Linked DNA regions of Homo sapiens. The protein of the gene in region 3 interacts with the protein of the main gene of each other region in a pairwise test. Each region holds a gene or a part of one and is shown on either strand. Other genes may lie near its edges. The genes, in order: USE1, CAMK2B and CCM2L.

The links.
Region 1: the proteins of CCM2L (region 3) and USE1 interact in binary tests that used the Homo sapiens proteins (3 or more experiments, as listed by UniProt).
Region 2: the proteins of CCM2L (region 3) and CAMK2B interact in binary tests that used the Homo sapiens proteins (3 or more experiments, as listed by UniProt).

The regions. Positions count from the first base shown.
Region 1 is NC_000019.10:17,213,378-17,217,121, reverse strand, and holds the start of USE1 (vesicle transport protein USE1), read right to left. Parts: upstream 1,766-3,744; 5' UTR 1,717-1,765; coding exon 1,615-1,716; intron 1,321-1,614; coding exon 1,271-1,320; intron 1,131-1,270; coding exon 1,052-1,130; intron 954-1,051; coding exon 801-953; intron 1-800.
Region 2 is NC_000007.14:44,323,626-44,327,369, forward strand, and holds the start of CAMK2B (calcium/calmodulin-dependent protein kinase type II subunit beta), read right to left. Parts: upstream 1,970-3,744; 5' UTR 1,797-1,969; coding exon 1,732-1,796; intron 1-1,731. UniProt on the Homo sapiens protein: Calcium/calmodulin-dependent protein kinase that functions autonomously after Ca(2+)/calmodulin-binding and autophosphorylation, and is involved in dendritic spine and synapse formation, neuronal plasticity and regulation of sarcoplasmic reticulum Ca(2+) transport in skeletal muscle.
Region 3 is NC_000020.11:32,027,334-32,031,077, reverse strand, and holds part of CCM2L (cerebral cavernous malformations 2 protein-like), read right to left. Parts: intron 2,084-3,744; coding exon 1,954-2,083; intron 1,379-1,953; coding exon 1,240-1,378; intron 156-1,239; coding exon of another isoform or gene 78-155; coding exon 1-77.

The DNA.
Region 1 (3,744 bases), on a different chromosome or scaffold from region 3:
TCACCCCCCTTGTCTTGTTCCCAAACCTGTCCCTTCTGACCTCAACCTCCTCACCTTCAGTCAGGACATGGGGAAATCCCATGACCTCTGAGCCTGTTTCCTCAACCTTAAACTGGTAACGACAACTCATATTTTTTTTTTTTGAGACGGAGTTTCACTCTTATTGCCCAGGCTGGAGTGCAATGGCTTGATCTCAGCTCACCGCAACCTCTGCCTCCTGGGTTCAAGCGATTCTCCTGCCTCAGCCTCCCGAGTAGCTGGGATTACAGGCGTGAGCCACCATGCCCAGCTAATTTTGTATTTTTACTAAAGACGGGGTTTCTCCATGTTGGTCAGGCTGGTCTTAACTCCTGACCTCAAATGATCCGCCCGCCTCGGCCTCCCAAAGTGCTGGGATTACAGGCGTGAGCTGCCGCACCTGGCCACAACAACTCATATTTTAAAAGATTGAGCTGATCCACATAAAGTGCTCAGAAAGGAACTTGTCATCCTCTTTTACGGCTGAAGAAACTTATGTGTCTTGTAAGTTGCAAGCCAGGACTCAAACCCTGCTCTTGGGCCAACTCTGGGGCTTAACCAGACACATTCCATTTTTGCCTTGTACCAAATTCCTATTCATCTAGCAAAGCCTTAGCCACAATGCCCCTCTGTTGGGCAGCCTTGTGTGATGACCCAGGGAAGAGATTGCTGGACCCCCTTAGGGTTCCTGTATCTGACAGTATTGTGGTTCTGGCTGCCTACAAGCATAGAACCCCTATTCCTGTCCAAGGGATTCCCAGGGACCAGGGAAGGAGCCCTACCGTGCCTAGTAGCTCACTCCGCATCTCGCTGGTGTACCGCGCCCGTGACTGCAGATGCACCGTCTTTGTGGCGGGCACTCGCTCTCTGGCTGTGGTTGGCACACGGCCAGGGGCCAGGAACTGGTTGGCCAGTGCTTTCTCTGAGGAGGAGGTCTGCAGAAATGTGGGAAGATAAGTCACTGGAGGGGCAGGTCCTGGGGACCAAAGTGAGCGGTGATGGGGGCTGAGGGGGCAGGGGCACCCCTTCTCACCAGCTTCTCGGCTTGCAGCATCCCCTTCAGAAAATCCACCTTCCAGGAATATTCATTGATCACCTCAGAGGCCGGTTTGCTGGAAGGCAGGAAGAAGAAAAACAAAACCTGTCCATGGTCCCCAGCTCAGGGAAGGGTCCCAGCTGGGATAGCGGTACTGGGATGTCCAGTAGCACAGCCACGTGCTGATGTGAAAGCCCTGAGGCTGCCTGCACTCACCTCGCGTGGACCTTCAGGGCCTGCAACATGTCCTCTAGGGCTCCCACGTACTGGGGAGGAAAAGTGGATTGTCACCCGGGGGTCTTTCCCATGTCCTGATCATGGGAGTCGGGGGGGCGGGGCCGACAAATGGGAGGGGTCAAGCGTAAAGGAGGCGGGGCCAGTGGGGGAGGGGCGGAGTCCCAGGGACGGGGGCGGAAGCTACAGGTGGACGTGGCGGGACTGACCGGAAAGGGCGCTGCCCGAGAGGCTACTGGGGCCGGGGAGTCGGGCCAGGTGGCTTCCAACCCTAGGAATCACCCCCCGGGAGTCGGGCTCTACGCGGCAGTGCGAGATCCCCTCACCTTCTCCAGGCGCCACTCGTCCGGGTCCCGTTTCTCCGCTGCCATCGCCTCGCAGCGGGATAGCAGCCGCACCAGGTTTAGCTCCAGCCTCGACGCCGCCATTATCGCCCGGCCCTACACCACCCCTTCCGCCGGCTCCATGTTAAGAGAGGGCGGAAGTGCCTTCAAGTGGCCTTCCGGGCGGATGTTTCCCCCGCGCTCGTTAGCTGGCCCATCTTTGTTTGGAGCGGAAGTAATATCTTGTTTTGAGACGGGGCGCTGGGCCGGGCGCGGTGGCTCAGGGCTGTAATGCCAGCATTTTAGGAGGCAGAGGTGGGAAAGGATTGCTTGAGGCCAGCCCGGGCAAGATAGCGCTACTCTATCTCTATTTTAAAAAAATAGGAGAGGCGCCACCCCATTCTTACTTAGGCGAATCACTTGCTTTTCCTCGAGAGCATGTTAACCCTTCGGGAATGATAGGACGACCGGGGTCTTCTGGTGTCAGACCCGCGTGCAGTGTGCCCTTTTGTTCTGTTTTGCCTGCTCAAAGTACCTCCCCGCACCCCACTCCTACCTGGATTCTTCCCAGTCGGAGCTATTTCACGTCCACACACCCTTCCCGATTTCTGTAGCCTGGGATTCAGGAATCCAAGGCTTCCCCCACCTCAGCAGGGCTCATCTGTATTGTGGTTATGGGTTTCCAGGTCACAGCTCCAGCTCTGATTCCATCCTCGGCCCTGGGAGAGTTTAACTTTTCTGGATCCGCTTCTTCCCCCGGGAAATGGACAGTGTGACAGTACCTGCCTCAAGGGGCACATGAGACAGCTCTGCCTGAGAGTGAGCAAGGTGGGGCTGGGTCCCCCCTAACGCCCAGACCCCCATGGAGAACCCCTTCCCAGCCCACCTCAGTACCTGGAAGCTGAGTACCCCTATGCCTTGCAGTGCCTCTCTTCTGGAGTGACAGGATGAGGGTGGGGGCTTCACAGGAACCAGGGCCTGGCATGCAGCCTTCATGTTTTCCCACACCTTAGGTCATCTGCACCTTGGTTACACCAGTGGGCCTGATGTCCTTGAAAAATATCATAGACGGGTAGGTGCGGTGGCTCACACCTGTAATCCCAGCACTTAGGGAGGCTGAGGCAGATGGATCACCTGAGGTCAGGAGTTTGAGACCAGCCTGGCCAACATGGTGAAACCCCGTCTCTACTAAAAATACAAAAATTAGCCGGGCGTGATGGTGGGTGCCTGTAATCCCAGCTACTTGGGAGACTGAGGCAGGAGAATCGCTTGAACCCAGGAGGTGGATGTTGCAGTGAGCCGAGATTGTGCCACTGCACTCCAGCTTGGGCAACAAAGCAAGACTCCGTCTCAAAAAAAAAAAAAAAAAAAGAAAATACCATGGAGGGCCAGGTGCGGTGGCTCACGCCTGTAATCCCAGCACTTTGGGAGGGTGAGGTGGATGGATCACTGGAGGTCAGGAGTTTGGAGAGCAGCCTGGCCAACATGGTGAAACCCTGTCTCTATCAAAAAACACAAAAATTAGCTGGGCTTGGTTGTGCGTGCCTGTAATCCCAGCTACTCGGGAGGCTGAGGCAGGAGAATCGCTTGAACCCGAGAGGTGGAGGCTGCAGTGGGCCGAGATCGCGCCACTGCACTCCAGCCTGGGTGACAGAGCGAGACCGTGTTTCAAGAAAAAAACCCACAACAAACAATGGAGACCAAACCCAGGGCCCATCAAAGGGGCCTCTAGAGGCTGGCAGGGCAGAGTCTAAATCCCAGCCATGCCCCTCCCAACTGTGTGGCCTTGGAGAAGCCCCTCAACCTCTGGCATGTGCTGTCTGAACTTGGGTTCTTCACGGTGCCCCAACCAATACCAGCCAGCCAGTTCCCACGACTCCCATCCGATGGCAGCCTGGGAGCCCATCTGTTCCTGTCCTGCTGGGCCCACCAGGAACTGGCCACCTCTGCTGGATGGGTGGCTGCTGCAGCTGACATTTAGGCTCCAGAGGCTGGGCACTGAATCAGGGAGGCCAGAGAGGGCTGCCAGGACAGCAGGCGCTCCTGGCCAAGTGAGGCTCTGCTGGGAGCTCCCTGTTTGGTGGAGGATCAAGACAGAACTTTGAGGACAGTGTTCCACCCATATTCTGCACC
Region 2 (3,744 bases), on a different chromosome or scaffold from region 3:
ACACTGGGTGCACATGGGGAGGTCTTGAAAGTGGCTTCTTTGGAGAAGACCAGGGACACCTGCTGTGAGGGCCTCTGTGCTTCTGAGCGCAAGCAGAAAAGACAACAAGAAGGCTCCTGAGGAAAGACTGACTTCCCACTGTTGCTCTCTTCCTCAGAGAACCAGGCACATTAACTGCCACCCACCTGCCCCTCCAGTGGCCAGGACACCTCTGGAGGCCAAGAGGACAGACGGGGGTAGATCGGTGCATCTGAGGGGTGAAGACCGGGGAGCCAGCCACCCACTCAGGGATCCGCATGAAGGGGGCTGGGCTCGCCCTCTCCCTCGAGGTCTCAGCCCTGTGGTGCTCTCCAGATCCACCCAAGGAAGGGTCCCCCAGCCAGCCTGGCCCCCCACCCCACCCATCCAGCATGGGCTTCTTGCAGGGCTGGGCTCCACATCCCTAACCCCTACCAGAATTCTCTCCACACGTGCAGGGAGAAGTGGGGAATGAACACACCCCCACACTCCTCCAGCTCCGCACTCCACAATTATCAATGATCAGCGTCCCTCACCCACCACAAGGTTTCACCAGACACTTATTTAGTAAAGGAAAAAAAGGATCTGTTGCTGGATGTGTAAGAGGAAATCTCGCCAGCACCGCCAGCGCCCCCACCGCCTGCACTGAAGGGACGGAGGAGGATGGGGGAGGACGCAGGAGGATGGGGCTCTGGCCCAGTCAGGCTGGAGATTCAGGAGTTCTGAAGCTAGCCCTAGGGATGCCAGGTGCAGCCACCTTGATTCTCAGAACGGGAGACCCCAGGCCAGACAGGAGGCCCCTGAGGCGCTCCCCATCTCACCCCAGGGGCAAAGCCGGGTCCGGGGACCACGAACCAGACCTTCGCCCTACACTGCTCATACTGCCAAGGAGAGAACGGGAGCCACAGCACCTGTTCCCCGTGAGGTCCCACTTCAAACAAACCTTCAAAGCCCCTTCCCCTTTAGGGCGCCCCCGCCAACAGTCCAAAATCCAGCCCCCATCCACCTCGATGACCCTGAAATTTGCAATCCAGTCAGGCTCTTAGTCTCTCCCCGCTATCCCCATGACCTGATCCAGGCTCCCTGACCTCGTCCTCCCCACACCTCCAAATTCCTGTTTCCAGAAGAATCTGGGGGAAAATCCTCCAGAACCCAGATTCCCCAGGGGACCTACAGCAGAGGCTCTCCCACGCCGGCACCCCCAGCGCGGATGGGGCCACGCGCAGGAGCAGGCGCAAGCAGGTCCCGCCACCCCCGCCGCCTGCCGCTCGGGTGGGGGTGGGGACAGCGCACCCGCGTCGGGGACGACCCTCTGGGGCCGCAGCCGACCCCTCCCGGCGCTCCAGGCCCGGGGGCCACCCCCGCGCGCCCCTCCTCTCTGACCTCCCCGCCGCCAAATGCGTCACGTCTGCCGGGCGCTCCGGGGACACCTGCTGCCGCCCCCGCCGCGCCAAGTCGCGAGCCCGGAGCCCCGGCCCGGCAGCCGCGCTGGGCAGAGCTGGGCAGGGCCGCGCGCGCTGAGGTCAGGCAGCCAGGCCCGGGGCCGGGGGCTCGCGGGTCGGGGCCGCGCGGGGCCGTGCGCTTGGGCCCGGAGCCCAGAGAAGCCGGCGGCGCGCGGGCCCGCAGTGCGCCTGGAGCCGGCGGCGCGGAGGGTCCCGGAGGTCCCGGCCCTCTGGGGTCCCCGGCCCAGCCCGCGCGCGCCGCTGCTCTTACTTGCCAATATCCTCGTAGAGCTGGTACTCGTCGGTGAAGCGGGTGCAGGTCACCGTGGTGGCCATGGCGGCGGCGGACGGGCTCGGCGTGCGCTCGGCTGCGCTCGGGCGGCGGCGACTCCGGCTCCCGCTCGCGGGCACGGCGGCGACACGGGCGCGGGCGCGGGAGACACCTCGGCTCGCGGCGCCAGGCGGGGGCCGGGCTGGGCTGCGCCGGGCGGCGAGCGCACGCGAGATCTGCTCGCTCCGTCCTCGCCAGGAGCGCGCCGCACACCTACGCGCGGGGAGGCGCGGGCGCCGCTGTCACCGCCGCCGCCGCCGCGCCCGCCCCGCCCGCCGCCCCCTGCACGCGCCTTCCCCGCGCCCTGCACACGCTGCTCCTGCACCCGCACCCGCAGGGCACCGGCGCCCTGCATCTGCACACGCGCCCTGCACACACACCCTTGCCCCGCACCCGCAACGCACCTGCACCTGCACCTGCACTCACACGCGCGCCCGCCCCCGCCCGCCCCCGCACCCCACACACACACCCGCGCCCTGTACTGACGCCTTCATCCTCTACCCGCACCACGCCCGCACCTCGCGCACGCAGGCCACTTGCTGCTGCCGACCCCTCGCTCTCACATAACACAGAAGAGTGCACATAATGAACGCAGCCTCCTCTCTCTCTCTCGAAGGCCCACCTAGCCTGACAGCAGGAGGGGACTGGGGCCCACATGGAGGTAGAGGGCTCATGTGCTGCCCTCCACAGGACTCATTCCTCACACCCTCAGGAAGAGATGCTGCCAGATCCCTTCTGCCCAGTCTCCATCAGCCACACATGCCCCAAAGGCTGCCTGGCCAGGAGGAACCGCCCAGAAGGCAGTGTACACACTGGGTCACTAGCATGAGAAAGTGAAAGGGTGGGGCCTGCCCCCTCCCCTTGGCCCCAGCCCCTCCCTTCCCCCTCACTTCTCCAAAGACTGGTTGCTGGGTTGTCTGGAATGGAGGTCCCAGGAGGCAACATTCGGAGTCCAGACCAACGGACCCTGAGCCAGGGGAACAGGGGCTGCTCCACCAGCAATTTGGGGGGCCTGAGAGCTCACAGCCACCCTGATCAGGTAAAGGTGCACATTCTCTCCTTTTCCAGCACGGTCCACCTGCCTGCCCCCTGCTTTTGCCTGGAGGAGGAGGGCCCACACACCCCAACCCCCTCCTGAAAGCAGCCAAGGAGGAGGAGAGTGCAGGGAGGCAGGCAGGAGGCAGGGCGACCCGGTTTCCCACAAAACAGCCTTCCCTGAGGCCTGGCACCAGGGCTGCTGTCCAGAACCGGGACTTTAGACCACTGGGCTCCAGCATCCCCACACTCTTCTCTGACGGGGTCCATCCTGGGCAGGCTCTGAGGAGGGGGTTTCCAGCAGCCAGCTCTGGATTTGGGTCACGCTGCTGCCCTGATATGACTTCCTTACTGCTCCCCAAGGACCAATTCTGGGCCTATCCTGCTCATCCCTCTCACCTCGTGGCCAGCCCAGGGCAAGCCCCAGAAGCCACAATAAATGTCATGTGGATAAGGGAGGGGATAAAGGCATTCTGAGTGCTGGCAGCCAGGGCCCTTCTGGGCCAGGATGCATTTGGCATGGGACTGCTGGGCAATTAGTAGACCACACGGCAACAAGTCCCTGCCATCGACCCACCTGCACCCAGAAGACACTAGAGGACGAGAAATTCTCAGGCCAAAGGCAAATGCTGGGCCACCTGGGGAAGTCCCCAGCTGAGGAAGCAGAGGGATCCTGGCCTTGACTTCAGCAGGACCATAGCAGGAAGGGAGACCCCGTCTATGTCAGACTTGGACTCAGAGAATCCTGGGCCATCCTAACAGACAGACTGGCATGGGCTCGAGAAAGGACTGGAGGCCAAGTCTGAGGTTTGTTCTTGGCGTTGTGTTTAACCCCACAGGAGTTTCTTCCAGCACCTGCTGGATGCATCCATATTTTCCCTTTCTGAGCTCTGGAAAGACGAGGTAGGGCCACACAAC
Region 3 (3,744 bases):
GCCCTCGCGGATGCCCACGCCCTCCAGGAAGCCCTCGAAGTAGCCGATGTCCTGGTCCGGGATGAAGGGCCGCATCCCTGCGAGCCGAGGGGCATGGTGAGTCCCCAGGACACGTTCCCTTTCCCTTCCACAGGGGAAGCGTCCTCTCTGCAGATCTGGGTGCAAATCCCTGCTGTCACTCACTGGCTGTGTGGCCTTGCCCAAGGTCCTTAACTGTCTGAGCCAGCGAATAACGACACAGCGCTCAGCACACAGTGAATGCTCACTACATACTAGATTACTGTACTTTTATTATTATTATTATAGCCTCTGCCTCCCGGGTTCAAGAGATTCTCATGCCTCAGCCTCCCAAGTAGCTGGGATTACAGGCGCACACCACCACGCCCTGCTAATTTTTGTATTTTTAGTAGAGACAGGGTTTCATGTTGGCCAGGCTGGTCTTGAACTCCTGACCTCAGGTGATCCGCCAGCTTCAGCCTCCCAAAGTGCTGGGATTACAGGTGTGAGCCACCTCGCCAGGCCTATTTTTGTTATTATTAGTACCATCATTATATTCCCATTGATTAATTATGTTGAACCTCATTTTCCTCACCTGTAAAACAGATAATTGCACCTGTTCTCTGGGTAGGGATGTGAGGATTAAATAACAAGGTACTCAGCACATACTGAGCACTCTGTAAACAGTTTGTTTTATTTCCATTCCTACTTACTAGCTATGTGACCTCAGTCCTTTACTTTGTAACTCTGAGTCTCAGTTTCCTCACCTGCAAAATGGGGACCATTAATAGTATCTACTTCTCAGAACTGGGGGCATTTAATGAGATGATGCTTGGCACAGGGTAACTGCCAAGCACATGTCAGCTTATTCGTATTATTCCTCCTGTTATTATTAGCCCTCCTTACTAGCTGTGTGACCTTGGACATGTTCCTTAGCCTTTCTGAGCCTCAGCTTCCGTGTGGGGTAAGATGGGAAGAATCAGTCCCTCTCGCAGCTTTGCTGTGAGGATGAAATGGCCACACCACTGCTTAGTTCTTCTTATCAACAGTGTCTCCCAGCTCTGACAAGTCCTTTCCCTACTCTGCACTTTGGGCTCCTCATCTGCCCTGTGAATCTCATGATCTGGGTTTCATCAGAGGCTGAAAGATAAGGAGAAAACATTTGCAGCCTGGTGCCTGACTGGGATGGCATGGACCAAGCAGGGGCCCTAGCTGACCTCTGGGGGTACAGCGGGGGCTCACCAAGGAGGAGGAACTTGCGCCGGTCTCCGTAGAGCTTCAGCAGGCCTGTGCAATAGTCCTGGATGGGCAGCCCCAGCCGGTACTCCCGCAGCAGCATCGCAAACTGCTGGATCTCGAGGGGCCCCAGCTTACTCCGCAACTATGTGGGGGACACCATTCGAGATCAATCCCAGGAAGCAGCGCCACCCAACCCCTGCCTGAAAGGCCCAGAGCCTTCCCTAAGGGCATGTTTGGTCCAGCTCTCCTCTGAAAACCTTCCCATGGGCTATTCAGAGGACATCTAGATCCCTTAGGCTGCATTTAAGAATAGGATGTGGACTCAAGCTGCCTGAGTGCAAATCTTGACCCCTTCACTGGATCAGCTCTGTGATCTTGGGTAGGTGACAACCTCCATGATGCTTGCTTTTCTCATCTGCAAAGTGAGGATAATGATGGTATTTTCTTCTTGGGGTTGTTGAAAAGATTAAAAGAAATAATGCATGAAAGGTGCTTAGAATGGTGCCTGGTATACAGCAGGCACTCAATTAATGCCAGCTGACATTAGTTAAGGCCTTTCACAAGCTGGCCTCAGTTTACTCTCCTAACCTCATTTCCTGCTCTGACCTCTGATGTCTTCTGCTTAGGTTATGTCCAGGGCAATGTGCCATTCCCAAAATGTTTACTCCAGCCTCCAGGCTTTTGCTTGTGCCATTCCCACCACCGGCCCCAGCTCACCGTGACCATGTAATCCTGTAACTGCTCCAAGCCCAGACTGCTGTGGTCGCTGCCGCTGCAGTGGGAGCCATGGAAAGAAGGTGTGGACGTGCCGCTGTAACATGCTTCAAAGGTGTCCTGGGAGCCATTACTGCAGGCACGGGAAGAAGGGCCTTCACTCGCCTCCCTCCAGCTCCTGGCCCTCAGGCAGGCTGAAGGTAGGAGGCCTCATCCTAGACTGCATGCTGGCCTCCAAGGCCTCGCATACCCTGGCCCCTGGCACCTCTCAAGTCTCATCTGTCACTGTGCTTGCCTTTGCCTTTGCTCTTTGTGCTTCGCGCCCCCCACCCCCCTTCTCCTTCTTCCTCTACTATCTCCTCACCTCTGGGTGTTTGCACCTGCTGGTCCCTCTGCCTGGATTGCCTCCTTTCCCCTCCCTTTTGCACAGCTAACTCTTACTCATCCCGTGATCTTAAATGTCATCTCCTCAGGAGAGTGTTCCCTAATTCCCCTAGGTTGGGTTAGAACCTCTGTCGAACATGCTCCCTCAGTCCATGGCCTACCTGTGACATGCATGGCCTTTCCAGGTACCCCCAAGCATCCTCTCTGACCACTCTCTCCCTCACACCATTTGCCACAGCCACAGTGGCCACCTGCTGCCCCTCAAACCCACTAAGCTCTATCCTGTTCAAAATTTTTTTTTTTTTTTTTTGAGACAGATTCTTGCTCTGTCACTGAGGCTGGAGTGCAGTGGTGCGGTCTTGGCTCACTGCAGCCTCCGCCTCCCGGGTTCAAGCAATTTTCATGCCTCAGCCTCCTGAGTAGCTGGGACTACAAGCATGTGCCACCCAGCCAATTTTTGTATTTTTAGTAGAGACAGGGTTTCACCATGTTTGTCCAGGCTGCTCTCAAATGCCTCACCTCAAGCAATCTGCCCACCTCAGCCTCCCAAAATGCTGGGATTACAGGCGTGAGCCACCACGCCTGGTTAGTTCAGGATTCTTACATTTGCTGTTCCCTCTACCTGGAACACTCTTCCCCCTTTCATCCTCCAAGCCTCAGTTCATGTGCCATCACCTCTGAGAGGCCCTCCTGACTCTCCAGCTGAGTTGCGGTCCCCCTCTGCCTCTCTTATAGCACCCTGAGCCTCCCTTTAGTACTTATTACCATTAATGATTGTTACTGTTAAATTGCGATTTCATTGCCTCCTATCCTAGACTGTAAACTTGACAAGAGCAGGGACTTTGGTTTTCTTCATTTGTTGAACACCTACTATGTGCCAGGCCCAGGTTTTGCCCTCTGTCTTGTGTCCATCTGTATCCCCAGCACACAGCAGAGTGCCTGGCACATAGGAGGTACTCAAGAAATATTGCTTAATAAAAACTCAACCTTAGGCTCCTGCCTCCTTGTCTCTAAATTGTTCCAGAACCATCCTCCATTATTACCTACAAAGAAGCCGTGTAGCTTTGTGGTTAAAGGACTGGATTCTGGAGCCAGCCTTCTTCTGTTCAAATCCCATACTTACAACTTACTAGGTGCTTGACCTTGGGAAAACTAAACTTAATTTCTCTATTTCTCAATTTTTCCATCTGTATAATGGGATAATAATAATTAGTGTCATCATGAGAATTAGAGGAGTTAATATTTGTAGAACACTTAGAATTATGGGCTATAAGCAATAAACAGTAGCTGCTGTAATGTTACTATGTTGATGAAAAAATAAAGTGCTTTATAGAACAGCACTTAGTACATAGCAAGTTCAATGTTCAAACGCTATTATCACTATTTTATCTCTTCAGTAGATATCTGGTT